7 separate regions of the Homo sapiens genome follow, and regions 1, 2, 3, 4, 6 and 7 are each linked to region 5. The links come from fine-mapping of genetic effects on gene expression. A gene starts in region 5. Each other region holds a variant in brackets. All regions are shown on one strand. Distances are between the middles of the regions.

Region 1 (4,000 bases), 43 kb before region 5:
CCATCATTTTCCCTAAGACCACCTGGCCTTTGGAACACTTGGTTTATTGGCCCCAGGGGAGGAGGGTGACTGACCTGATACATCTGGGCAAGTTCCAAAGTTCAAAGTTTCAACCATGGCCTCATCTCTCAATTTGTTCAGGGAAGAAAAATGCTATTTATTGAGGTATCCTCTACGACCCATAAAAATGAGGCAAAAGCCACAGAGTGACCCCAAGCCCTTCACAGACACTTGCCCCCAAATCAGGAACTCAGGACTCAAAGCAAATTTAGGAAGGCCACATTTCCGTCTCTTAACAGCACCATCTTTTTCTACAAATCAGGAGAAAAATAGAAAGGTAGACTGTTCTAGTTGGAAGTCAGCTTTACGAGAAACATGAGGACCAGAAGGAAGACACTATTTGCACAAGATCGTGCTGCTACCCGGGGTAGAACTAAAACCATGCCCAGGTCTCGAGACACCCGGTCCAGTGCCCTTCCCCGCCTCTCCAGCGTAGCCCTCTGCACCCAGCTCAGGGTTCTGGCCCATCCACACGGCCCAGAGAGAGACACTTCTCCCCTACCCCCAGCCCTGGGAAAGGGCTGCACGCTGGCCCCTAGGATCCAGCTGAAAGCCTCTCCTGGCAACTTCACCCTGTCTCTGCCCTTCAGGTTCCAAAAGGAGAAACAAGACAGCTCTCTGCCCGTCGCAGGCCTGGGCTGCCCAGAGGTCACAGCACAGTGATCCATCAACTGTCAACTCCACCAGGACCTGTAGCTGGGGCTGGCAAGCTCACCCCACCCAGATGGTTTCCCTTTGCATGGCTGTCTCCAGGATGGTCCTGCTACTCACACAGCTGCCCCTATCGGCACGAGCACGCCACGCAGGCCAGCAGCAAGAGGGATGGTCAGGGAGAGTGAAGACATATGTCTGACTTAGACTTCAGTCACCTGAGCCAGAATTGTACTTGGCACATCTGTCCAGATGCAGCAATATCTCAAGGCAGGGAGGGTGGGATGAAAAGAAGAAAATCAAGTTCTAATCCTTAGTGGAAGGGCTGAGGATTGGATATGCACAGGGCGGAGAAGCAGCTTGCAAATTCTAGACCACCAAAATCGAGGCGAGTGGTTCTCAACCAGGAGCAATTTTACCCCCAAGAGGACATTTGACAAAGTCTGGAGACATTTTTGGTTGTCATAACTATGAAGCTAAAGGCCACAGATGCTGTTAAACATCATCCAACGCACAGGCCGGCCCCCATGACAAAGAATTATCCAGCCCCAGATGGCAACGGTGTCAAGGTTGACAAACCCTGCTTTAGGTGTGTAGATGCTAGAAGGTTTTTTGTTTTATTTTCTTTCCCCCAGACATCTTTCATCATCGCTTTAGAAGACAGCAAGAAAATAACGTGGGAGTATGACAATTACAACTCCAGATAAATGTTCGCAGCCTGTCAGAATGGAAGCCTGGGCTTCTTCCTCTGTTCCAGTGACTCAGTAACTGAAGCTGCGGAGAGGAAGGCCAAGGCTTCGGGAGACAGCTCCGAGTAAAGACAGGCTTAAGACAAAGTTCTGAGTATGTTCTTGAAAAGCTCAGGCATCACAGAAAGGCATTGGTGATGCCATAAACATCCAGCTTGTGCTGCCTTTGAAATCTGATTGAACAAGAAATACTCTTACAGAGCCTTTTGGTTATAGTCTGCTTTTTGTTTTAACATGGTTTTAATCAGGAAATCATGGCTCTTTGTTCCTTCAGGAAATTCTGTCAAATGGTTCACATTCCTTGTAAAGAACTACTGTCTATGCAAATTAAGATTCAGAGTTTTAAATTCAAACAGTTTGGGAGCAAGCAGCGTTTTGTTGTTGTTTCTTAATGTCAACGTGAGAAAAAAAAAAAGTGAGGGGAGGAAAGAATGCAAATGTTCGTCATTGAAAACACACACAAAACCAGAAACATTTTCCCCTCATGCACAAGGTCAGGAGTCTCTGGGTGAATGAAGCTGCTTCATGTTTTGCAGACGCGCTGATGGAACATGGGAAATACTGTTGCAAAGGCCCTCGATAGGAGAGCGTGGAGATGCCTAGAAATAGACATATCACCCAACAACGGGTTATCTATGAGAACTGCATTGTTCTCAGTGTGACTGGGCAGCACAGGCTATGGCATCGGGATATGAAAAATATAGTAACATACTCTATTACACATCCTCTTTACTCAGAGCAAGAGGAGATAAACACAGGTCATGACTAAGCCAC[T/C]TTCTCCAACGTTCACTTCCAATTTTGTGTGTAGCTCTGATCCAGTCATCAAGGTGCTGACTTAAGGAAAAAGTGTGGATGGAATATGTGGTGTAGGGCCAGGCACAGTGGCTCATGCCTGTAATCCCAGCACTTTGGGAGGCCGAGGCAGTAGGATCATTTGAGTCCAGGAGTTCAAGACCTGGGCAACAAAGTGAGACCTTGACTGTACAAAAAAAAAAAAAAAATTTAAATGAGGCTGTAGGATGCCTGGAGCCTGGGAGATCAAGGTTGTAATAGGTTGTGATGACGCCACTGCACTCCAGCCTGGGTGACAGAGCGAGACCCTGCCTCAAATAAAAGAAAAAGAAAAAGTTAAAGAAAATGACTATCTCTGACGTTGCCTTATCCTTCCTGGAATTAGGGAGAATGGCAAAGAAAGTTGTATGAAGGCCCCCACAACTGAGTTCAAACCCTACATCCACAAGTAGCTTCAGGACCTGGAGCAGGTGATTTAATTTCTCTGAGCCCCTCAGTTTCTTCATCTGTAAAATGAAAATTTACAGGTCAAAGGCTTAACACAGAAGAGACTCTCACTCAACAAACAATGAGCATGTTCTGACTGAAGGCTTTCCAGGGAGATTCACCCCACAGGTCTGGGCACAGCACTCCTAGACTCTGAAGAGCCTCTGTGGAGGTCAGAGGCTCTTTGAGGATTCAGTGTTCTTTTCTAAGCCCTAGTCCCTATCCAGAGTTGCCAAGAATGCGGGAAAGCAGAGACTCCACTGTTGGGAGCATGACTTAGTGGGGCCATTCTGGAAGGCAATTTGTTAAGACCCTTCATCTTTAAGCCCACTGCCAGGTATCTGTGACATCCTTGCACACGTGCACAAAGAGTTATGCACTTACAATAACAATGACACAGTAATAGTAAACTTTTTTGAGCATTTAAAAAGTTCAAAGTCAGCTGGACGCAGTGGCTCACGCCTATAATCCCAGCATTTTGGGAGGCCGAGGTAGGCAGATCACCTGAGGTCAGGAGTTCAAGACCAGCCTGGCCAACATGATGAAACCCCATCTCTACTAAAAATATTTAAAAAATTAGATGGGCATGGTGGAGCGCACCTGTAGTCCCAGCTACTTAGGAGGCTGAGACAAGAGAATTGCTTGAACCTGGGAGATGGAGATTGCAGTGAGCCGAGATCGCGCCATTGCACTCCAGCCTGGGCAACAGAGTGAGACTCCATCTCAAATAAGTAAAATAAAATAAAATAAAATGTTTAAAGTGTTTACACACAATTCATACATATTTGATACATGATATACCTGGTGTGTCACATAATATTTATTTGATATATGTACTAAGTAACTTAGATAAGCCTACAAAGTAGGTATTCTACATATGATATTTATTTGATATATATATTAAGTCACTTCACCCTACAAGGTAGGTATTATTAGTATCTCCTTTTTGTTTTTCGTTTTTTGTTTTTTGAGACGAAGTTTCGCTCTTGTTGCCCAGGCTGGAGCACAATGGCACGATCTCGGCTCACTGCAACCTCCGCTTCCTGGGTTCAAGTTATTCTCCTGTCTCAGCCTCCTGAGTAGCTGGGATTACAGGCACCCGCCACCATGCCCGGCTAATTTTTTTGTATATTTAGTAAAGACGGGGTTTCACCATGTTGACCAGGCTGGTCTTGAACTTCTGACCTCAGGTGATCCACCCACCTCAGCCTCCCAAAATGCTGGGATTACAGGCATGAGCCACCGCGCCCAGCTAGTATCTC
Region 2 (4,000 bases), 63 kb before region 5:
TCATGGGTCAGGGCAAAACCTCTACTATGCAGGGCTCTGTGCTAGGCCCCGCCCAAGCTCTTCACAAACACTAGCACACTTAATGCTCGCAACGACCCCATGAAATAGAGATCTCATCCACTCAGTTTCTTGTTTCTTTCTTTCTTTCTTTTTTTTTTTTTTTTTTGAGATAGAATCTTGCTCTGTCATCCAGGCTGGAGTGCAACTGCATGATCTCGGCTCACTGCAACCTCCGCCTCCCAGGTTTAGGTGATTCTCCTACCTCAGCCTCCTGAGTAGCTGGGATTATAGTCACCCGCCATCATGCCTGGCTAATTTTTGTATTTTTGTAGAGACAGGGTTTCACCATGTTGGCCAGTCTGGTCTTGAACTCCTGACCTCAGGTGATCCGCCCACCTCAGCCTCCTAAAGTGCTGGGATTACAGGCGTGAGCCACCACGCCCGGCCTCATGCACTCAGCTTTACACATGAGAAAAGCTCTGAGTAACAAGTAACACATCCAAGCTCACACAGCTGGTGAGAGCAGAGGCCAGGGTGCAAACCCAGGACCGTCCCATTTAGCATCTATGCCCTGAGCTACCATGCGATTCAGCCGGCACAGGGTCCCATACAAGGCAGAAGTTCAGAACATTTGGAACCATCTCTGCTGAACGGGGCATCACCACTACATCTAGGAGGGCCGCGTCAGCCTACAGGGCCAGAAATCCAGGTTCTATTCCTAGCTCAAGGGGGCCCGCAGGAAGGCTCTTCCCAGCAGAGTCATGAGACTGTGGCAAGCCCACAAAACAGGGCCCCACAGACAAGGAATAAGAGTAGGCATCATGCCAAATGATTTCCACAGATGAACTCCTTCAGCCTCCCGAGTACCTACGAGGTTAGTGCTGTCTTCACAGATGAGGAAACACACACATATTAGGCAAGCAACTTCCCCAACGTCACACAGCTAATCAAAGTGCTGGAGCTGGGACTGGCAACTCCAGAGTCACGCTCCAGAGTCCACCTGCTGCTAAACCTCGTCACCAACCTAGTGCTCACACACCTGTTTTTCCCTGACGAGTCAAAGGCCCCACGTTCCCCTCTTCCATTGCCAAAGGTGGCGACAAAACCCCGCACACACCAGCCCAGCACTGATGGGGTGAGTCATTTACGAGCTCCGGACCATCCAAGGTCTTCAGGTTCAAGGAGCTGGTGACTCAGTGCAGCCACCCCGTCCAGGGCTCCAAATTCCTCTTTGTCAAGTGTGCAGATCTGTATATGCTAAATGTCTGTTTACTAGAGCTAAACAAAGAAGTCAATGCAGGCAAACAAAATCTGTAGGAAACACATTGTTTCAGCCAGTCTCTGGGACAGCAAACAATAGAAGGCAAAAGGCTATGCAGAGAACTTGGTAAAGAGAAACTGCCTTGGAGTTCCCAAACCTGCAGACCCTTGATTGTGTTGGCAGCTCGAGGGGATGAGAGAGCCTCTAAAGAGGCCAGGCGTGTCTGAGAGGGCCTCTCTGAATGACCAGCGCCCAAAGGGCGTGGAGGATGTGGCTGTACACGTGTGGCCCGGGCAGGTTTCCGGTGAACACTCCCTCCCTAAC[G/C]GCGCCGGCGCCACCCCAGGTCCTGGTGCTATCTGACAGTGTGAGCTTACTTACGAAAGCCCGGTCTGCTATTCAGTCACTTCTAGGCGGGTCCTGTTATTATTATTAACAAAGATAAGATTACGACTAATAATAACACTCATGACATTTAAATGCATTTCATCCTATCGCTTCAGCCTTGCTCTCTGAGGTAGGGTAGAGTTCAAATTCCACATTTGTGTTCCGCCAGGGGCCCAGCATGCCAACTCACTCAAACACAGATGAAATTTCCAGAGCTTTCTTAAGAATGAAGTGAGTTTTTTTCCTTTGCACTAACGTGCCAAGCACACTGCAGTTTGAGCTGCTGGAAGGAAAATGCCTATTGTTACACCTACAAAACCCTACTTAACTCTCAGCTTCACACCTCTCAGGAGAAACTGCTGAAAATCTCCTAGAGACTGCCCCCCAGCTAATTTGTGCATTCCCCCAGCATTTGAGGGTCTTCTGCAGAGAGGGCTGTGGGCCGCATGACAGACCTGCACCTGCACAGAGCAGCTTATGGGCCTGTCATGGAGGTGAACAATTGTCCCCTGGTTTCTTAGGGGATTGGTTCTGGTGCCCCCCTCAGATGGCAAAGTCCATGGATGCTCAAGTCCCTGATATAAAATGGTGTAGTATTTGTATAAAGCCCATGCATATCCTCCTATACACTTTACATCATCTCTAGATTACTTCTAATACCTAATACAATGTAAGTGCTATGTGTATACAGTTGCTATAACGTATTGTTTAGGGAATAATGACAAGGAAAATGTTTGTACATGTTCAGTACAGACCCAAGCATCCTTTTATTTCTGAGTATTTTCAATCTGCGGTCAGTTGTATCCACAGATGTGAAAGTTGCAGATACAGAAGGCTGACTGGACATCAATGAAGGTACAATTACACATTTTGGTGACAAGTGGCAAAGAGATGAACAGAGGACTGTGATGAAGAATGGCAGGGCTGGCAGTGGGCTGCAAAGGAGCCCTGCTAGTTAGGATGCAAATAACAGGCCCCCAAGAAGGTAATATTTATGCCCAACCCTGAATGCCAATGAGCAGTGAAGGAATGTGGAGAGGAGAGCACGGGACTCTGGGCAGAGGGAACAGCAATAGGAAGGTACATTCAAGGTACTCCAAGGAGGCTGGAGGAGCAGACAAAGTGTGGGGGACTGGCACAAGGCCCCCTCCCTCCCAAAGGCCAACACCCCAGGCTTTGGAGCTGGCTGGCCCCCTCCAAGGTGGCTCTGAGAAAGAGGCTTGGAGAGCCAACTCAGCAACTTTTTTTTTTTTTTTTTTTTTTTAAGATGGAGTCTCACTCCATCTTGCAGGCTGGAGTGCAGTGGTGCGATCTCAGCTCACTGCAACCTCCGCCTTCTGGGTTCAAGCAATTCTCCTGCCTCAGCCTCCCAAGTAGCTGGGATTACAGGAGCACACCACCATGCCCGGCTAATTTTTTTGTATTTTTAGTAGAGACAGGGTTTTACCATGTTGGCCAGGCTGGTCTCAAACTCCTGACCTCAGGTGATCCACCCGCTTTGGCCTCCCAAAGTGCTAAGATTACAGGCGTGAACCACTGTGCCTGGCCATTATATCAGTCTTGACCCTAAACCTAACCCTGACTCCCCAGGATGAGAGCACGCAAAGCTCTCTGAACAGGGCCTACCCACGGAAGCCTCATAATGTGAGCCCATTACAGGGCTAACCACACGGGTGCTGCTACCCCAGGAACCCTCGGCTGCATGTTCAGGGACTATAGGACGTCCTCAGGAAACCCCTTCCATGGGTTTGGGGGCTCCCAACATCCACCTGTACCATTCTTGCTTCTCACGGGAAGTAGGCCACAACTATTGTCTATTGTTTGTTCTCCAGCAAGTCACCCTAACTGTCAGAGAAGAGGCTCGTGCTTCAACAAGCAGGGGGAACGCGTCAGGTCATCAAACTTCCTGTGAAAAGTCCCTCTTTGTTTAGAAAAGATGCTGGTTTGTTTCTATGTTTCTGTTAGAGAACAAACAGAAAGCTGCCTGGAAGAGTCTAGAATGAGGTAAGAGAGTTCCAGTCAGCCAGTGGCAGAGGCCCCCAAATCTACCCTGAGCAGAGAGCAGATGTCATCTGCCTGTGACAGGAAGCCCATGGGAAACAGATACCATCTCCCTCTGGGCCCCAAGGCCCATGGGGACTCCGCTGCAGGGTGAGGGCACCCCCTTTGTTATCTACTCACAAGTCACCCCAGAAGTGAGGACAGCTGGCTCCTGGGCCGTGGTGGATGATGGATGAATCCCACCTTGAGATCAAGGCCTGGAGACAGGGCCAGGGTAGCGTTTCTTAGGCACTAAAGAGGCAGCACCAGTCCAACCCTATTCATTACTAGCTCAGCCTTTCCTCAGTGTCCTGA
Region 3 (4,000 bases), 190 kb before region 5:
CATTCTTTGATGTCGTTGGGCACCCCCTTTCCCTCCCAGTCAACCCCCAACACTTCCCCTCCACGCTGACCTCTCAGAACTGCCCTGCTAAGCCCTTCCTTCTGGGCACTTCTCCTGAACTTGGCCAGGCCTCCATCTGCCCTACCACAAATGGTTGGGTGTGGGCACACAGCAGCATGGTGACCCTTGAAGGGGCTGGGCCCCAAGAAGCAGGCATCCCGCCCCTACTCCAGTCCTGGCCTAGACCATCCCCATCTTGGCCCTGCCAGGCTTGGGCACTCTCTGGGGGAGGATGGGAACTGTGATCTCAGGAGGTCAACAACAGCCACCAGCCCAGCACTTAACAGCTCCCCATGTGGCCTGGCACAGACTTAGGGGCTCCTATTTTTGCATAAGGCCTCCTGTGCCACCTGCTGTGGGGTTTGGAAGACTCCTTACCTTTGGGGTGAGGTACTTGGTCATAATTTCCTTCCCTTTCTCTCCCAGTTTTTCATCTGGAGTAACTTCATATTCTGCCTAAAACAGAAGGAGAAAAAAGAACAATAACAGGTTTGCTCATGAGCTTCTTATAGTTACAGAACCTCACAGCCCCTGGAGGAAATCCCCTAGAGGCCACCTGACCAACCCCCTTCTCCTGCAGGTCAGGAAACCGGGGGGGAAGACCTGGCCACGGAGCCCCGATGTTTAGTCCAAACTACTTTGCCCTCTCTCACAGATGCTGGGTCTCAGGATGGCGGTGCTCCATGCAGACTGCACATCAGAATCAGCAGGGAGCCCTGAGCAAACACTGATGCTAGGCCCCACCCTAGACCCATGAAACCAGGCTTTCCAGTGGGCCATGAGGGCTGGCACCTGGGCAGCCGGGGTTGAAGACCACTGACTTAGATGAATCAAAGGAAACTACCAGAAAAATAACAGCCCACCAGACTGGAAGGCTGCCGAGAAGCTGCCTTAGGTCACTCAGACCTTGTAAGCTGTGTGATCGTAGACAATTTGCTTAACCCTTCTATAAAACGCAGATGGTACCAGCACCTAGGTATACACTGATTATACAGACGGAAGTGATCAAGCTCTTGGCCTGGGGCCTGGCCCATCATAAATAATAATAAACAGTTGCTATAGTTACCGCCATTGTGATTATTACACCTTGCAAGGATAAACAATAATGTGGATGCCTGGTCTTTTCCAGCTTTTCAGTTTACAAAGTGAACATACACAGGTTTTTTAAGATGTTCTTATCTGAACCTCGAAAGAGCCAGGGCAGTGACGCAGGAGAACAGGGGCTGCCATCCCAACCCCTCGTCTGTAGGTGGAGATCCCGAGGGCCGGCGGTGGGAAGGGACTTGCATAGGGTCATGCAGCGGGAGGTGGCAGGGCTGGGACTCGAACCTCCAAGCGCAGGGCTTCTCCTCAACCACACCACAGAATTTAGGACTCTGATAACTAGCCAAGCCAGGGGGCCCAAGCTCTAAAGATGGGAGGTCTCCAAAAAACAGACTTTTTAATTTCCCTGAATCCCAGAGGGGCTCCTTCGCTCACATCTGACGCACTCGCCACATGGATAAAGGGCCTCGAGTCAATAAAAAGCCTGAGTAAGCGGCCCTTTCTCATTTAGACAAAAGAGCTAATTGCAAATTGTTTATAACCATTTCAAAATCCACCACCCAAGGATTTGTCAGCCTCTGTCCAAAAGTACAGCTATTTCAAAAGAGGAAGGAAATGACACCAGCATAGACGGACCCGAACTCCTCCCCAGGC[G/A]TCCCACCATGCAGTCAGATGCCCAGCCGGCCCTCAGGGAAACTTCACACCTCAGTGTCTAGGGTCCGATTCCTCCCAGGCCAGCCAAAGGGAGCACGCAGGCGGCACTCGCAGTGACCACAGAGGCAGCCAGGCTCGTTTCCAACCACAGTGAGCGAGTGTCCTTGTCTTGCCCTCTCTCTTCTAATGGAGAGCCAAGATCCAATGATTTTCTCCCATGAAGAAACATGAACACTACAATCATTTAGATCACAGGGAGATAGGGCAGTGGTTCTGTAAGGAATCCCACCCCTCATTTTATAGGGCTGGACACAGAGGCTCAGAGAAGTCAGGGACTTGCCCAAGGTCCAAGGTCACAGCTGCTGGACTGGCGCGCTGGCCTCTGGATTCCCACTGCGCCGCGTGGGCAGAGCCTCTCCCCAGAGGTCAACTCCTCTTCCACATCAAGATGAGCCTTGAGGGACTGGGCACTTCTTGATGATTTGACTCGAGAGATGAATTCCTGAGATGCTTTAAGGTGGCTCTTTCTTCTTGACTTTTTCCTGTTATTTTCTTCCTCTGTGCCCCCTGTCGCTCTCCTAAACCTGAGTGCACATGTGTGCACACACACGTGCCCACAGACACAGATACACACACCCACACACACACCCACACACCCAAACATACACGTGCCCACACACACACAGATACACACCCACACACAGACACACACACACCCAAACATACACGTGCCCCCACACACACAGATACACACCCACACACACCCACACACACGTGCCCACAGACACAGATACACACACCCACACACACACCCACACACACACCCACACACCCAAACATACACGTGCCCACACACAGACACACACCCACACACAGACACACACACACCCAAACATACACGTGCCCCCACACACAGATACACACCCACACACACCCACACACACGTGCCCACAGACACGCAGATACACACACCCACACACATCCACACACGTGCCCACTAAGCAGATACACACACCCATACACGTACCCACACACCCCCACACACATGCCCACACACAGACACAGATACACACACCGACACCCACACACACCCACACACCCACATGCCCACACACAGACACACAGATACACACACCCACGTGCCCACACAGACACACAGATACACACCCACACACACGCCCACACACACACAGATACATCCACACACAGACACCCACACACCCACACCCACACGTACCCACACACAGATACACACCCCCATACACAGACACCCACACACACACTCAAACCCACACACAGACACACATACCCACAGATACCCACACACACACACACACCCCCCACACAGACGCAGACACACACAGATACCCACACACACCCACAGACACACACACACAACCACACACCCACAGATACCCATCCACACAAACACACCCGCACCCCCCCAGACCCAGACACACACACACATACCCACACACACCTACACACAGACACCCACACACAAACACCACACACCCACAGATACCCATCCACACAAACACACCCGCACCCCTACACACACACATACAGACACCCACACACAGACACACACCCCATATGGAGTGCTGATTCCAGGCTCACCCTACATGGCAGGGTATTATTATTATATCTACATGGTAGGTATTATTAGTCCCGATTTGCAGATGAAGAAACTAAGGGTCTAAGAGGTTCCAATACAGCACAGCTAGCAAGCGACGGGGCAGCAGTGGCGTCTCCAAAGGGGCTGAGCACTCTAGAGCCAGCTGCCTGCTGTTTTCCAGAATGAGAAGCACCCAGGGTCCTGCTGCCCCTGGACAGCCCGCCGTTGGTCCGGCACCGTGGGAATGTAGCTAGACTGCTCTGCAGGACGCAGGCCCTGGGCAAATGGCCGGCCATCATTTGGGGTAACTCTATACCATCCAGAACACTAGATTTGCACTGTACGAAAATACATCTGTGAAGGTGGCTCTATTTAACCAAATGGAGGCCTGGGGCTCACTAATCAGCCTCAATAACCAGCTAAAAATACTCTTGCTGTGGGTACTAAAACCCACGTTAAAAAAATAACATCCCTTTCAGGTCACCTGCCTCCCGGCAGAGGCCCCGCCGGTGGATGGGCACGCAGGTCCACAGGGCGGCAGAGGGAGCACGCGGGGACAGGCCTCCCCTGCCGGGATCAAAAGGCCTTTCTCAAAGAGTCCGTGCCAGGCCACCACTTGAAGAG
Region 4 (4,000 bases), 70 kb before region 5:
TGATCCCCTAGAGAATGGAGTAGGCTCCTCGAGGGAGAGCACTCACTAGAACACCAGGCAGTTACTGGCACGCACATCAGTGCTGCTGCGTGGCTCTTCTTGCCCTGCAGCGTGGCTCTTCTTGCCCTGCAGCGTTGGAGCTGGCCTCGGCCACAAAGTGCCAGAGGGCTGCAGGCCACCGCCACTCACTCCTTGAGAACCACGGCACGTTTTGAAGGACACACCATCAACAGGAATGAGGAGCCCTTGCTGCTGTCACTGGAGTCAAGTTGGTCTTAACCATCCACTCCCACCCCCCTAGTAGCACCGAGCCCTCCTCCTTCCATCTTCTTTCATCAGAAAACTGGATCTTCCCACTTTCTCTCCCCCAGGATGCTGAGCTGCACAAGGGGAAGAACTATCCAGCTCATCTTTCTATCATAAGCACTGCACTCAGGGCTCAGCACCTGTGATAAGCAGAATTGTATGCCCCCAAATTCCTGTGTTGAAGTTCTAACCCCCAGCACCTCAGAACATGACTGTATTTGGAGAAATTTGAGGATAAGGCCTTTAAAGAGGAGATCATGCAAAAATGAGGCCATTCATTAGGCTGGGCCCCAGCCCAGTGTGACTGATATCTTTATAAAAGAGGTCAGGGGCCAGGCGCAGTGGCTCACGCCTGTAATCCCAGCACTTTGGGAGGCCAAGGCGGGTGGATCACGAGGTCAGGAGATCGAGACCATCCTGGCTAACATGGTGAAACCCCGTCTCTACTAAAAAAAATACAAAAAATTAGCTTGGCATGGTGGCACACGCCTGTAATCCCAGCTACTCGGGAGACAGAGGTGGGAGAATTGCTTGAACCCAGGAGTGAGAGGTTGCAGTGAGCCAAGACTGCACCACTGCACTCCAGCCTGGGCAACAGAGCGAGACTCCGTCTTGAAGAAAAAAGAAGAGGTCAGGACACAGAAAGACACCGGGGTGCAGGTGCATACAGGAAGGACCATGTGGGCTCAGAGCAAGGGGGCGGCCATCTCCTAGCCAAGGAGGGAGGGCTCCAGGGACCCCAATCCTGCTGGCACCTAGGCCTTGAACTTCCAGCCTCCAGACTGGGAGAAAATAACGTCTCATTGTTAAAGCCCCCAGCAAATGAATACAGAACCTAGGAAGGGGCAATGAATGAGTGATAGGTGGAAGGGCTAAGAAGAAAAGAGGAGGGAGAGGAAAGAGACGTGCTCAGATCTGTCTCTTCTGGACATCCGATCCCAGGCTGTCTCTTCAGTGGGCCCAAGTCCAACTAGCAGTCAGCTCAGAAATGATCCCTGAGGCATCGAAGCTTTCACAAGGAGGCCACAAAAGTCGGCTGCCTCTTTAAGACCTCCCTGTGGGACACAGCGACATTGGATAAGGGACTCGCCACACAGCTTGCCAGCCCTACAGAGAGTCAACGCATCTGCCATGGCTTCCCGAAGGCAGTTATGGAGAGAAAGAACTTGAGTGTTCCCCTTCTGCTTGTCCAGCACCCCAAGCAGAGGGGCGGCCTGCAGTGAGGTGCCAAGGCCAAGCTAGCCCTGAGAGAACAGGTGGAGACGGGCACATAGGAGCCATCGCTCAGGGCCATTAGACCGTCTCGGGAAGGGAGAGGCCACAGGAGAATTGGGGAAGCTTATCTAAAAACAACGATTCCTTGTCCCAAAGAATAACCACTTTGGAAAACAGGTTGTCAATTTCTGGAAAAGTTAAACCTATACCTACCATATGATCCAGATGTTCCTAAGTATTTACTCAAGAGAAAAGGAAATCTCTGTCCATAGAGAGACTAGAAACAACCCACCTGCGCAAACAGTTGAGTGGGTAAACAAACTGTGGTCTATCGATACAGTGGGTCACTACTCAATAAGAAAAAGGAATGAACTACTGATACGCCAACAGTGTAGATGAATCTCAAAATCTTCATGCTGAGTAAGTAAAGGCACATGAGAAAGGGTACTTGCTATATGATTCCATCTATAGACAAATCCAGAAAATACAAGCAAATCCAGAAAATACAAGCGAATCCAGAGCGACAGAAAGCAAGAACAGTGGCTGCTTAGGGTTCAGGGGACAGGAAGGGATGACAGGGCAGGATTATAAAGGGGCATGAGTAAACTTTCAGCAGTGATGGATAACTTGTTTGTGGTATGTAGATTCACAC[G/A]GGTATGGATATATCCTAACTTCTCAAATCATATTCTTTAAATATGTGTGGCTTACTGTCTGTCAATTACACTCAATAAAGTGGTTTTGAAAGAGTACGGATTCCTGGGTCCCAGCCTGGAGAGTCAAGGTCTGTTGTGGCAGGGGTGTCGCAGAGAGCAGAAGAGGGGGAGAGGGGTGTAGCCTCCACTGGCACCCTGGAGCAGGTACAGAATGCATGCAGAGATCATGCCTCAACATCAACAATTATTCCTCCTGGGAAACTACAGACATCGTTATTTTTATTTTGACATCAGGAAACCCCTTCGCGTCCTCCACAACTAGTTTGGAGAGCCACTGGGAAGCAAGAAGTTCACGCAGTCAGCCAGGTGTTGGGTGCCTCCACCCAGCATGGTGGTCTGTGGGCTCTCTTGGGGGTCTGGCCGAAATGATCAAGGTGTCGGCACCCGACACACAAGGTGCGGCAGCACCCAGCAAGAGAATCCCAATCAGCCAACCTTCTGGATCCATGACCCACTGATGCTGCACTTGAAGACATGGAGGTTAAAGATTTGTTCACCAAATTAGGCTAAAACGTGGTCACATGATTCAGAGGTTTGGCCAAGGCATCGGATTTTCCCAAATCACAAAGGCAATGCATGGATATAGGGATATATTAACTTCATGTGCCAATATAAATTGGTACAGAAGTGATGTGTAACGTAATAATAATTGATCATGGTACGACCCTTGTGAACTGCAGGAAGCTATTCCTCTTTCACACAAGAGCCCTAGAGGAGAAGTTAAGACTTGAGTTCAGGTCCCGCTGTGGCAGGACTCCCAAAAGTCCATCCCCGCTTTGACTTTGACAGTTGAATTCCAACTTCTTGGAGTTTTCTACCTTACCCTCCCAGCTGTGTTGCTAAAATGTCAAAGGCAGCTTCAAGAAAACCAAAAACACTCTCTGATTTCACTTTTAAAACGTCAGTGTGGCAATTCCTAAGGGATCTAGAACTAGAAATACCATTTGACCCAGCCATCCCATTACTGGGTATATACCCAAAAGACTATAAATCATGCTGCTATAAAGACACATGCACACGTATGTTTATTGCGGCACTATTCACAATAGCAAAGACTTGGAACCAACCCAAATGTCCAACAATGATAGACTGGATTAAGAAAATGTGGCACATATACACCATGGAACACTATGCAGCCATAAAAAATGATGAGTTCATGTCCTTTGTAGGGACATGGATGAAATTGGAAATCATCATTCTCAGTAAACTATAGCAAGGACAAAAAACCAAACACCACGTGTTCTCATTCATAGGTGGGAATTGAACAATGAGAACACATAGACACAGGAAGGGGACTGTTGTGGGGTGGGAGGAGGGGGGAGGGATAGCATTAGGAGATATATCTAATGCTAAATGACGAGTTAATGGGTGCAGCACACCAGCATGGCACATGTATACATATGTAACTAACCTGCACATTGTGCACATGTACCCTAAAACTTAAAGTGTAATAAAAAAAAGAAAAACTCACCATTTACAACAGAGTCTGAGCTGCATGCCTTTACAATCAAAACCCAGCGTATCCCAGCTCTGAGGTATGAAACTTTAATCTGGCAAACAGAGGAGGAAGGACACTGAGACCTCCTTCAAACCCAAATGAGGGGGATTCTCAAAACCTCCTGAGGAGCTAGCACAGCTATGGAAAATCGGGTCACTGTCTGTGTTTGCAGTATTGCTTAGCGAGACGGTCCCCAAACTCCTGCGGCCCTCCCTTTCCTCACTGATGTTGAATTCGGAACACTAAGCGCATAACACTCATTTTTACA
Region 5 (4,000 bases):
GAAATAATTTCAGAATGGAGCGAGAGTGAAAACTTTCCCAGCCCCCGAATCCTGAGATACACAACCGTGTCCCACCACTAGGTGGCCAGCTGCAAAGGCTGAAAGAGGGGCGGGGGAGGTGGAGGGCTGTTTTCTCTGCTTCCTCCCTTTCAGGACCATTCCCCAACCCAGAGGAGAGCCTACCAGCACCCACCTAGATCCTGTCCACTAAAAATGTCAGGTTAGGAAAAAAAAAAAAAAAAAAAAAAAAAAACCACACACACACACACAGCTCAGGCCTTAGAACCTGAAGTCACCAAGTAACAAGCCTCTCCTAAAAATTTATTCCCACCAAAGCTAAGCAATGGGAGGGAGACTAACCTGAATATTTTAAACTCTGCTGGGGTTTTCAAAGCACTGCCTCCCTTCGGGGCTTCTGAAATAAACCTTCTTGCCCACTGGCTGCTTTAGAGTGACAAGTGACGACGAAAGTAAGACACGAATGCCGGGTTGAGTTGCTGAAACGCTGCCCACGGAAGGCTATGCATCACCTACCCCCACAGTGTGTAGGGAGCCACAAGGTGATGGAACGGGCTGAATAAACACGAATCGTTTTATTGCTGGCCAGAAATTCTTCCCTTCATTCATCAAAGTAGGTGAATGAAAATATTAAGCAGGTAAGACATTTTCATGGGCTGCTCACCGAGTATCCTTCTAAACTCAAGCCCTTACTCAGTCTGCCTTCTACCTTGTATCAAATAAAGCGTTCTCCCGTGAAAGGGAAAAACCTCTTCCCCTTTTATGAAAAAGGTCGCACACTAGAGCTCAAATCTTGACCAGAAAAAAAAAAGGAAAATATGCGACATAAATTCCAGGTATTCCTAAATACATATGTTTACATGGACACAACACAATCATTTCAGGAAGCACCCAAGTTTCTGCCTCCCCCCCCTTTTTTCTGTTTTTCATCAAAAGGAAGAGTCAAAATATGCGTTCTTAGGGTTTGACTCAGGATCTTACACACTCCATTTAGACAATATTTCCTGCCAGCTAAATGCAGGAAATCTAATGATTTGCATAGAAAACGTATCTAAAGCACCAGCACACTTACCTTTCTTTTCTTAACTGAGCCAAAATCTAACAATTTCAGTTATCACACTCCCAGAAAAGAAAAACCTGAAATACTGAATTATTTTCTAGGTGGTCTGTACAGCCATCCTTTGATAATTCTATGAAAAGGCTAATTCCTCAACATCTGACTTTGCCTTTAAAAGGCTTCCTTCCACACGACGGGATTTCCCTAAGAAACATCCCAGCGGATGGTTTCCAGCAATAGTCTATATCAACTCAGCCTGCGCAGGCAAAGACTTGGCTTCTGCTCATTCCACCCCCGCCCCTCGAACACACACACCAGTTCACACAGAACCATCCCGGGCCGACTTGAAACGCTATTTTATGTGCATGTTTGCTCGTCGCTCCCCGAATGAATGCTTTTCCAACTGACCTTTCAACAGCTGCCGAGATGGCACGCTCTGCAGGGCGAGCGCTGGAAACTAGGAGATATGTTAGCATCCAAATCCCTGCAACCTTCTCAGCCCAAGTCCAGATTCTCTGAGCCCCAAGGCAGGAACCCTGAAGGGTCTGCAGAGCCGCTCTCCGAAGTGTCCTGCTCGCGACCCACTCGCCGGCAGCGGGCATCCTGCACGGGCGCAGCCCCAGCCCGCACGCCACCCGACACCCGCACCCTGGCCCGCGGCGGACGCGCCGGGCACGTACCGGCCCTGCCTCTTACCTTCCCTGGCTTTCAGCAAGACCGTGTTGGCCACGATGTTTTCCAGCTCCATTGACAGTCGGCGGTCAGCAACGGAGCCGGCCGGCGGGGCTGTCAGCGCCTGGGGTGCTGCCGCTGCTGCTGCCGCTGCTCGGGCTGCCGCCGCTGCTGCCGGAGCCGGGGGAGCCAGCAGCCCGCCTTGCCTACCGCATTATTCCTGCTCTCAGCCCAAGAGTTTCCCCCTCTGCAAAGAGGAGCCGCCGCCGCCGCCGCCGCCGCCGCCGCTTCTTCCTCCCTCTGTGTCCCCCCTCCCCCCTCCCTCAACACGCTCCCCCCCACCCCCCACCCTCCGCGTGTCTCTGTCACTCCATTCTCCTCCCCTCCGGCTCCCTCGGATGCTTTAATGCCTCGGATGCTTCTGCCTCCCCTCAGTCCCTCCCGGGGGTGTGGTACTAGCAGGCTCGGGCGGCCGCACTGCGCAAGCGCCGGCCCAGGCGCGCCTCCTGCCTCGGTGCTCGCGGCGCGGGGCCTGCTGGGAGCTGGAGTCCTCCCGGCCGCGCGGCGCCGGGGCTGAGCTGGGCTGGCGCGCGGCTGTCGGAGCGAGGACCCGCCCCGGGACGGCACCGAAAGCGAAGGCGGGCACCGCCCGGCCGACAGGCGACTCAAAGGCGGCCCAGCCAAGCCGAAGTCCCCAGCACCCCCCCGCAGGCTCCCGCTTGCCCCCTTCCCGCCCCGTCGCCAGCCCGGAAAGCGGAGTGCACGGGCCCCGGTGACGGCGCGTGAAGCGCCGCGGCCCGGCAGGAGCCAGTGCGGGTCCCGAGCCGTGCTCGGAGTGGGAGGGCTGCCAGCTCGGCCGCGCGCCACAGCCCGCTTCCTCCGGTCCGCGCCAGGCCCGCGAGGGTCTGAGTCCCGGGTCAGTGACGCGCGCCCAGGGTCCCCGCACGCGGCGGCGGCCGGCCCGGCCTGGCCCCTGCCCAGCGTCTCCCACGCGGCGCCTCGGGCCGCGGACAAAGATGCACTTTGTTTCCTCGGAGGGCGCGAAGGGCTCTGCGGGTCGGCTGCGACCCGGCGCTGGCTGCCCGCGCTGCTCTCGGTGCGACCCGAGCGCCCCCCGCCGGCCGCGGTGCGCGGCGCGGGGTCTACGCGGACGGCGCCTGGGGCTCAGGGTCCAGCGTGGGAAGCTGCTTATTCTGTGAATAAACTGCCTTCCAGCACACCCGGCCAGCAAATCCACGAGCCTCCCTGCAGCCAAACCCAGCCAGATTAAGTAATAAAAACGCAGACGGAGTCGCCGGAGTCTCCGCCGTGGGGAGCGTTAATGAGTAACAGCCAGGCCAGCGCCAAGCCGGCGTGGGATTAACGTTTTTAAATTCCGGTCTTATTTATTTTGGGGCTCTTAGCTCCTTCCAGTGTTATGCTCAGAACATCAGACTCCAGGTCTGTGCTCAGCCCCGTTTCCTTGCTCCCTCCGCTCCGAAGGCCCCACTCCTGGAAATGGGCTGTCTTCGGTCACCCGGGATCTGCCACGAGTGTCCTACAGCTGGGGGCGGGGCAGGCAGGCCCCAAAGAACAATGAGGCCTTTGCCTCCTCTGCATCCTGCGGGCCGGATATCCGTTCAGAAGCCGACTCTGGGCCTTCTCTGTCCAGAAGGAGGAAACCCTCTGTCCCCAGGGCTGCCAGGAAGTCGCAGGGAGGTGCCGAGAGAAACAGAGAACAGTTATTATGCATTGGAGAATATAAAGAAATCAATAAACCTTCCAGGCCTTGGAAACTGGTCTGGTCACTGATTGTAACAACCCAAGATTACCTGCTTTCCTGGGGGAGTATACCCACCACCACCACTTCCTGGTGTCTAGACTTGGGTCAGTGAGTCTCCCAGGGCCTCATTTATCTTGTCTGCAAAATGGGGGCAACAACAGTTTACCTGTCAGAAGGCGGAGGGCTCAGCGGGTAACTTTTCAGGCACTTACCACTCCAGGAATTACTGTTCTAAGCAATCCAGGCTTGGTCTTTGCTACATATTCACGTGCCTAGAGCCCTAACCTTTAATGAAAGGATCTCTCTCAGACAGCGAGACCCCTAAAGCTGGCAGCTCCTAGAGCCCTCCACCAACCACGCTGGTCACTTGCTGGCAGCATAGGGCCTGATGAAGCCCGAAGTTTGTTTATTCGGCTAACATAAAAAAAAAAAGAAAGAAAATTTTTGAATGCCTTTAGATGGCTTATGCACCTTAACAATTTTCTTGGGCC
Region 6 (4,000 bases), 85 kb before region 5:
GCCTGCCTGGGAAATCTGCTTTTGGGATTCAACATTTCCCTGCAACCCAGCCCCTCACCCCAACTCCTAGGTCCTGGCAGAGGGCTGGGGGGACACGTCTAACCAACCGAGATGTGGTCCTCACCCGCAAGAGCACCTGCTGGGTTGGATCAGGCCTTGTGGACCCATTAAAAGTGGTTATAGTCTCACCTTACCAAGAAATTGAGACTAGGACAGGTTCTGAAATATGCTCGAGTGGCAGAGCAGAGATTTGAACTTGGGTCTGTGAAATGTTCTCATCACCACACATGCCTCTCACCCAGATCCAGGTACGCTTTCCTCCCTGCAGGAGGGGTCAGAGGCAAATACACATGCGTCTCCTCACACCATGAAAGTAAGTGGAGAAGCTGAGCCTCCCTCATTTCACAGCTCCTGGGTCTCTGTTTTTCCCCAACTCCACAAAGCAGAGGTGGGGGTGGAGGTTGAAAATGCTCAGCTCCCAGACCCCCGGGATTAGCAGGTGATTGTCAAGCATCTGAAAAGACACAGAGTGCTCTTGTCATTATTAGATCGTAATAGATTCATACTCACCCCCTCCATCTGAAGGCGTCTATTTCAGGTTTAACGTAACAATAGAGTATTGTTCCTACTCCAGACTCGGGTACCACCCCGAGGCGATGGCAGCACCCACCCAGCCCCACCCTGGCACTGACTGCTGCCTCGGGGCAGAGGCAGCACCACCCAGGCATCCAGGCCATCATCCACTCCCTCCTAGATTCCCAGCAAATCTCCTGGGCAGTGACGAGGAGGCCCAAGGTCTATCCGGAAGGAGGAATGTACAAAGAAGCCAATTTGCCTGATACTTGGTACCTGGCAATCCGCAGTCAACATAAACTATCCTCCCAATGCCCACGGCCAAAGGTCACCAGAGTGACAGACCCATGGCTGTGCACTGGGAGGTCAAAAGACAGACGAGGAACAACAATCACTTAATACACAGAGTGCTTGCTGTATACCCCATCTCTGCTCCTCAATTGTATTCAAGCTTTGCATTCAAGGTTTTACAACTATCCCATGGTAGAGCTTAGCATCTGTTAGCTAATGAAACAGACTGGGCGTCGCCAGAGAAAAGCACCCACTGGTCTCAAACTCCTGACCTCAAGTGATCCACCCACCTCAGCCTCCCAAAGTGCTGGAATCACAGGTGTGAGCCACGGCATCCAGCCACCTCAAGTCTCTTGTCTGTTAAATGGGAGATAAAAATATGTCCTCCACCTGTTTCACAAGAATGGGGTAAGATTCAAAGAGAGTAAGCCACTTCCTGGCTGCATAACCTTAAACAACAGCTTATACATAACTTCTTCAGGTCTTCGCTCTTTTATTTATAAGATGGGAAAATTCTTGTTCATACGGCTCCAGAATATGACAGGAGATGAAGCCACCAAATGCTGAGTGCAGTGCCTGGCCCAGAGCTTGAAGTTTCCCAGTATTCAATGATTAGAGGGTGCTTTGTAAAACATAAAGTCAACACGCAGTTGGCCTCCCATATCCACGGGCTCTGCATTTGTGGATTTAATCAACCATGGATTGAAAACATTCAGAAAAAAAAAAAA[AC/C]TGTATCTGTACTGAATATGTATGGACTTTTTCTGTTGCCATTATTCCCTAAACAATACAGTATAGCAACTATTTACATAGCATTTACATTATATCTAGAGATGAGTTAAAATATACCAGAGGCTGTGTATAGGTTATATGCAAATATGACACCATTTTCTGTCAGGGACTTGTGCATCTGCAGATTTTGGTATCCTCAGGAGGTCCTGGAACCAATCCCTCACAGACACCTAGGAAAAACTATGATTGGAGAGCCTTGTCCCTCACCGCATCCCATCTAGCACACAGCAACCTTAAGTTTGTGTGCAATTTCAAATGTACTTAGGCCCTGAGGGTGAGAATTAGGTTTGGGGAGGTTTAGGGTATTGGGTTTTTTTAAATTATCTGAAAGACCCCAAAATAGCCACCTGCCCAAGGCAGCAACCCAGAAGCAATGAGCAGATGAACATGGGGGCTATCCCTGTGAAGCCGAGGCACCATGTGTTTGTGAAGGAAGAGGAAGAAAGGAGGATGAGGAGGAGAAGGAGGAATAGGAGGAGAAGGAGGAAGAGGAGGAGAAAGAGGAAGAGGAGGAGAAGGAGGAGGAAGAGGAAGAGGAGGGGAAGGAGGAATAGGAGGAGAAGGAGGAAGAGGAGGAGGAGGAATAGGAGAAGGAGGAAGAGGAGGAGGAGGAAGAGGAGGAGGAGGAAGAGGAGGAGGAAGAGGAGGAGAAGGAGGAAGATGAGGAGAGGGAGGAAGAGGAGAAGGAGGAAGAGGAGAAGGAGGAGGAAGAGGAGGAGAAGGAGGAAGAGGAGGAGGAGAAGGAGGAAGAGGAGGAGAAGAAGGAGGAAGAGGAGGAGAAGGAGGAAGAGGAGGAGAAGAAGGAGGAAGAGGAGGAGAAGGAGGAAGAGGAGGAGAAGGAGGAAAAAGAGGAGGAAAAGAAGGAGGAAGAAGAAGAGGAGGAGGAGGAAGAAGATGAGCAGAAGGAGGAGGAGGATGAGGAGGAAAAGGAGAAGAAGGAAGAGAATGAGGATAAAGAGGAGAATGAGGATAAGGAGCAGGATGAGGAGGAAGAGAAGAAGGAGGAGGATGAGGATAAGGAGGAGGATGAGGAAGAGGATGAAGAGGAAGAAGAGAAGAAGGAGGAGGATGAGGATAAGGAGGAGGATCAGGAAGAGGATGAGGAGGAAGAAGAGAAGGAGGAGGATGAGGAGGAAGAGGAGGAGGAAGAAGAGAAGGAGGAAGAGGAGGAAGAAGAGGAGGAGGAAGAGGAGGAGGAGGAGGAAGAGGAGGAGGAGGAAGAGGAGGAGGAGGAAGAGGAGGAGGAGGAAGAGGAGGAGGAGGAAGAGGAGGAGGAGGAGGCAGCAGCAGCAGTTCCTTCCTGGCTCCAGGAAGCAGCTCTGCACCCACCAGCGCCCGAGGCAGCCGTGGTCACACCATCACACCCAGCTCCAGACTGAACAAAGGATCCTGCCAGTGGCCACAGGGAGCCTGCACCCAGACCTGTTTTTCCAAGGATGCCAGGCTGAACGCCCAACCCTGGGTGTAGCTAAATGGGTCTAGCTGGGTGTAGCTTCACTGCATCTCCTGCCGAATTGGTGATACCGCAAATCCAAAGGAGCCCTGCTTCACCTCCAATGGCAGCTTTCAGAAAGTAGAAGGGATCAGTCTACACGAAACATGAAGATCATGGAGAAAAATGTACAACCAGCCAGATCACCCCATACCCTGCGGCTGGCTCTGGGGCCTCTAGCACATCCCCCATCCCAAATTCACCTACCAATCTAATGTCCGCTCATCCCTCAAGGACTGACTTGCAGAAGTCTTGCCCCTCTGCAAAGCCACCACTACAGAACAATCTGTCTGACCCTCCTGTTCTCCCACAATCCTCCTCACTCCATCCTGGGCTCATTCACTGAATAATCATGCTCCTGTCTCTGACTTGGACAGGCAGTGGCTTTGCTGCCAGGAACACAAGGATGGAAAGCAGCCCCTCCTTAGAGGAGCCCAGCCCAGAAGATGAGACAAACAAGGAAGAGATGATTATGTCTCAACACAGGGCTGTTGCAGGACCGATGTGAGCAGAAGGCTACACACACACAGAAGGGGAAACCCAGCCCAAGGAATCTAGAAGGCTCCCCGGAGGTGGGATGTCTCAGAGGGACTCGGAAGGACAAGTAGGTAGCCACCAAGCAGAAGAGGACAGGACAACATTCTAAGCAGAAAGGTTTCCAAGGGCTGTGTGAGTCCTTGGGAATGGCTGGATTGCGGGGTACCTGGGAAGGGAAGACAGTGCCTGCCTTCTAGAGGCAGAAGTGAGAACCACTTTGTGAAAAGGAAATGGTCAGATGCAGCTTTAAAATCGTCACGATGTCAGCAAAACCAGGAGGACAGCATTTTAGGGGCTATTGCAAAAGTCCGAGAGAAG
Region 7 (4,000 bases), 180 kb before region 5:
ATCTTTCCATTTGTTCAGGTCAAAACTTTGAAGTCTTCCTTAACTCTTCTCTCATCCCCAATCCATCAGAGAATACACCTTCCACACAAGTCTCAAATCCAACCACTTCTCACCACCGCCAGGGGCTACTAAGATGGCTTGAGCCACCAGCTGCTCTCACCTGGACTGCTGCAACAGCCTCCTAGCAGATCTCCCTGCTCCCACCTCAGCCCCTCAAAGCCTGCTCCCAACATGGAAGCCAGAGGGATTCTTGAAAAACCTAAGTCACAGATGGGCATGGTGGTGCACACCCGTATTTGCAGCTACTTAGGAGGCCAAGGTAGGAAGATCACTTGAGTCCAGGAGGTTGAGACTGCAATGAGCTACGAACCCACCCCTGCACTCCAGCCTGGATGACAGAGTGAGACCCTGTCTCATAAATAAAATAAAATAAAATAAAATAAAACCCCAAGTCAGACCATGCCACTGCTCTGCTAAAAACCCTCCAGTGGCTCCCCCATTTCACCCAAAGTCAAAGTTCTCTGATGGCACAAAGTTTTACATGATCACCTCCTCTCCTACCCCCTCTGCCCCTCCTCCCTCCCCTCCAACTGCGGACACTCGTGCCTTCAGGCCTTTGTGCTGGCTGTTCCCTGCCTGTAACACCCTTTCACCACATATTCACTTGGCTAACTCCTCCAACGACTTCCTGGTCCTCAGTCAAATGTCGCCTTTTCAAAGACTCCAATGCTGACCATCCTACTTCATGATACAACCAGCCTCCCCATATCCAAACTCCCAACCTCCTTTAACCTGCTCCAGTTGTTTTTCCATCCCAGTTCTCACCTTCGAACATTCCATGTCATTGGCTTATGATGCTCATGGTCTCAGAGGCAGCATGATGCAGAGGAAGGAGCCTGGACTGGGAGCCAGGAGACCTGGGTTCTGGGCCTACCTCTGCCCCTCACATGCTCTTTGACTCTAGGCAAGCCACCAACCTCCACTGGGCCCAATCTGAGCATCACTCAACTGTTACGTGTGGCACTGTGGGCTGAGGATTCACAGACCATGGGCCACGTCTGTGCCACAAAGAGGCTCTGGCTAGTGGAGGAACAGGCACACAGACCCCTCAATGGCTAGGTTCACTGAGCCTCAGTGCTATTCCAGACATGGTTGTGAGCGGTAAGAACTCATGTAGTCTCTACCTAACACCTCGCCCATCATCAGATACAGCTATATCCCCACTTACAGATGAAGACACGAAGTACACGAGGGGTTAAACACCTGCCCATGGTCTCACCAACAGATGGTGGCAGAGCCATTTTGTCTTGGCATCCTATCTCTGGAGGCTGCACTCTGCATCATGCACCTCTGCCAGCACGGGGCAGCAGTGTGGCTCAGGTGCATGTGAGAAGCAAGCACCCACAGCAGAGGGGCACAGCAGGAGAGAGAGGAAGAGGGAGATCGGGAGGGCCTCTGAGAACAGGGGACAGAAGGACAAGTAGGCATTTGCCAGGCAAATGGGACTGTGGGGAGGATTTCAGGCAGGGAGGCCTGAGGGAGCTAGGGCCAAGAGGCTTGAACTGTCCTGGCAAGTCAGAAACGCCAGAAGTGGGTGGTCGGGCCAGAACACAGAGCTGAAGAAAGACTCCGGGAAGGCCAACGGTGAAAAGGTGGGCAGGAGCTGATGCTGGAAGATCTGGTAAGTCAGCCTCGGAACCTGGACTTTATCCTAGATGTCATTACTTCCCAACCCTGGATACACATTAAACCCCTGGGAGCTTTGAAAAATGCCAATAGGTGCTAGAATCGATGGCCTAGTGGTAATAACCCTTGTGCCAAACTGTGGCCTGCAACTGCTATGTCCCAGTAAAAGGAATCACAGCTCCTCTGAGAAACAATGGATCTAGTACAAGATGAGCCCAGAACCCTGCGTCATATCAGACAGCAAGGAGACTACTGATAACTGCTGGAGCCCAGCCAGGGACTCAGAAGCCAACCTGGAGAGGCCCCCACTAGCCACTGATGAGACGATGAGCATCAGTCAGGATAATGACTACAGTGCAACAATACACACGCAACATGTTTAAAACCACAAGTTAAAAATAGTTACTGCTACTGGAGGATGGTAGTGAACCAGTTTGGTATTTTAGAAACATTAATGCGAGAAAAGAATCAACCATTTCCTCTATGAACTTTACCACTGGGTCACCACATGGTCATCAAAAGGAAGTGCCTCTGTTGGCAAATGAAGAAGGAATGGCAGAATTAGAATGTTGCCATGTTGCAAGCCCTTGTTAATTAACAGATTCAGGTACAGACTAGCAATAGCTGCTACCATTTCAAAAAGAAAGACAACCAGATGGTGTATGTCCCCTGA[T/C]GGAAGAACATGAAACCACTGAGGAAGTCGAATCCCACTCCACCCTGCAAAAACGGAAACCGAATTTGGTCAAGTTTCTAGATCCAACTAGCAACGTATAAGAAATATAAAGGAGCCAGGCCAGGCGCGGTGGCTCACGCCTGTGGTTCCAGCACTTTGGGAGGCCGAGGTGGGTGGATCACGAGGTCAGGAGATCGAGACCATCCTGGCTAACACGGTGAGACCCCATCTCTACTAAAAATACAAAAAATTAGCCGGGTGTAGTGGCGGGCGCCTGTAGGCCCAGCTACTCGGGAGGCTGAGGCAGGAGAATGGTGTGAACCTGGGAGGCGGAGCTTGCAGTCTGCTGAGATCGCACCACTGTACTCCAGCCTGGGCAACAGAGCGAGACTCCATCTCAAAAACAAAAAAAAAAGAAAGAAATATAGAGGAGCCTGTTAAATGACATTTAGGGATAAGAATACAAAATTCAGACTGTGGGAAGCTCTTCTGTAGGAACAACAAATGTATTACAAAGGGGGATGGATGGTTATGGGGGAGCCTAGAGTCAAGAAAACATCAACAGATCACAACGTGTGGACCTTAGCCAGACCAGTTCAAACAAATACACATAAAATGTATGAGAACACTGGAAATCTGAATACTAACATTTGATGATAGGAAAGAATTTTTTAAGCTGTGATAGTACTATTTTTTAAAGAGCTCTTATTCAGAGATACATAATGAAAAGTTCACAGATGAGATAATATGTGAAAATTGCTACAAAGTGTTACAGAGTAAAGGATGGAGGAATGGATGAAAGAAGATTGGCCATGAGTTCATAATTGTGGGTTCATAAAGGTGGGGTGAAGGGTGCCTGGGGGTTCATTACACTATTCTGTCGACTTTTACTTTTTATAGCTTGAAATTTTCCATAATAAAAAGTTATTAAAATACTAGGCCCCACCTCCAGAGATTCAAATTAATTGGTCTGGGCTTCAGCTCAGGCTCTGGTGTGTTTTTAAGGCTCCCCAGGTGTTTCTAACGCCCAGCTAAGATTGAAAACTACTGTAATCACTCACACAAGAGGCGCCAAGAGCCTGCCCGAAGCCCAAGGCAGAGCCTCCCCTAAGCCCAAGGCAGAGCCTCCCCTAAGCCCAAGGCAGAGCCTGCAGAGGGGAGGGAGCTGGCCTGGGCAGGGTCAAGGAGCCAAGCACATGAGCCTGATCAGGTTGGGGAAGGACGAGGAGGGGAAGGCATCAAAGAGTGCAAAGATTTCAGGCTCGGGTGACTATAGGGTGCTGGTCACTGGAACAGGTAATGTCTCAGGGCTGGTAGCTTTGGGGTCCTGGGAGAAAGTCCTGAGTGCATTTGGGACTTACTGACTTTAAGGGGGCCTTTGTGACTTCAGTGGAGATGTCCAGTGGGCAATTTGGTTTGTGGGTCTAGAGATGCACATCGAGATCTTGAAGCAGATACAGAGACTTGAAACCCTAAAGGGTTGTCCCCCAAACTGAGATAGAGGTCGGGATGGCTGCAGCCAATGGTGGCATGAGGGCCCTTCAGGAAACAGCAGCCTCTCGGCCCCTGCACCTGGCGGGGAGGGGAGGGGCCTGGATGACTTCACACCCTTCATGACCGCTCTCCACTCCTCTTCCTTCC

The links. PIP is the estimated chance that this variant, and not a neighbour inherited with it, causes the effect.
Region 1: its variant is fine-mapped to the expression of GRK5 in whole blood (INTERVAL, PIP above 0.99). The same link has a PIP of 0.9 or more in platelets.
Region 2: its variant is fine-mapped to the expression of GRK5 in whole blood (TOPMed, PIP above 0.99).
Region 3: its variant is fine-mapped to the expression of GRK5 in whole blood (INTERVAL, PIP 0.97).
Region 4: its variant is fine-mapped to the expression of GRK5 in whole blood (TOPMed, PIP above 0.99).
Region 6: its variant is fine-mapped to the expression of GRK5 in whole blood (INTERVAL, PIP above 0.99).
Region 7: its variant is fine-mapped to the expression of GRK5 in whole blood (INTERVAL, PIP 0.97).

The regions. Positions count from the first base shown.
Region 1 is chr10:119,248,979-119,252,978 of GRCh38, reverse strand. All of the region lies in intron 1 of GRK5 (G protein-coupled receptor kinase 5), which reads right to left. Among named protein-coding and RNA genes, the nearest start is that of GRK5-IT1, 43 kb to the right of the region's middle. The variant T/C (reference allele first, on the strand shown) is at 2,235.
Region 2 is chr10:119,268,742-119,272,741 of GRCh38, reverse strand. The region is part of intron 1 of GRK5 (G protein-coupled receptor kinase 5); the gene reads right to left. Among named protein-coding and RNA genes, the nearest start is that of GRK5-IT1, 62 kb to the right of the region's middle. RefSeq lists enhancers at 3,413-3,662, 3,793-4,000. The variant G/C (reference allele first, on the strand shown) is at 1,586.
Region 3 is chr10:119,393,211-119,397,210 of GRCh38, reverse strand. GRK5 (G protein-coupled receptor kinase 5) reads right to left here. Exons shown (of 16, transcript NM_005308.3): 4 at 439-516. Among named protein-coding and RNA genes, the nearest start is that of MIR4681, 17 kb to the right of the region's middle. The variant G/A (reference allele first, on the strand shown) is at 1,759.
Region 4 is chr10:119,275,816-119,279,815 of GRCh38, reverse strand. All of the region lies in intron 1 of GRK5 (G protein-coupled receptor kinase 5), which reads right to left. Among named protein-coding and RNA genes, the nearest start is that of GRK5-AS1, 62 kb to the left of the region's middle. The variant G/A (reference allele first, on the strand shown) is at 2,174.
Region 5 is chr10:119,205,741-119,209,740 of GRCh38, reverse strand. It overlaps GRK5 (G protein-coupled receptor kinase 5), which reads right to left and starts at 2,170. Exons shown (of 16, transcript NM_005308.3): 1 at 1,772-2,170. The coding sequence starts at 1,823. It overlaps GRK5-IT1 (GRK5 intronic transcript 1), which reads right to left and starts at 1,320. Exons shown (of 2, transcript NR_186528.1): 1 at 1,091-1,320. RefSeq lists silencers at 1,744-1,793, 1,844-1,913, 2,124-2,953 and enhancers at 3,294-3,403, 3,424-3,473, 3,584-3,663.
Region 6 is chr10:119,290,443-119,294,442 of GRCh38, reverse strand. All of the region lies in intron 1 of GRK5 (G protein-coupled receptor kinase 5), which reads right to left. Among named protein-coding and RNA genes, the nearest start is that of GRK5-AS1, 47 kb to the left of the region's middle. The variant AC/C (reference allele first, on the strand shown) is at 1,593.
Region 7 is chr10:119,381,698-119,385,697 of GRCh38, reverse strand. All of the region lies in intron 3 of GRK5 (G protein-coupled receptor kinase 5), which reads right to left. Among named protein-coding and RNA genes, the nearest start is that of MIR4681, 5.7 kb to the right of the region's middle. The variant T/C (reference allele first, on the strand shown) is at 2,360.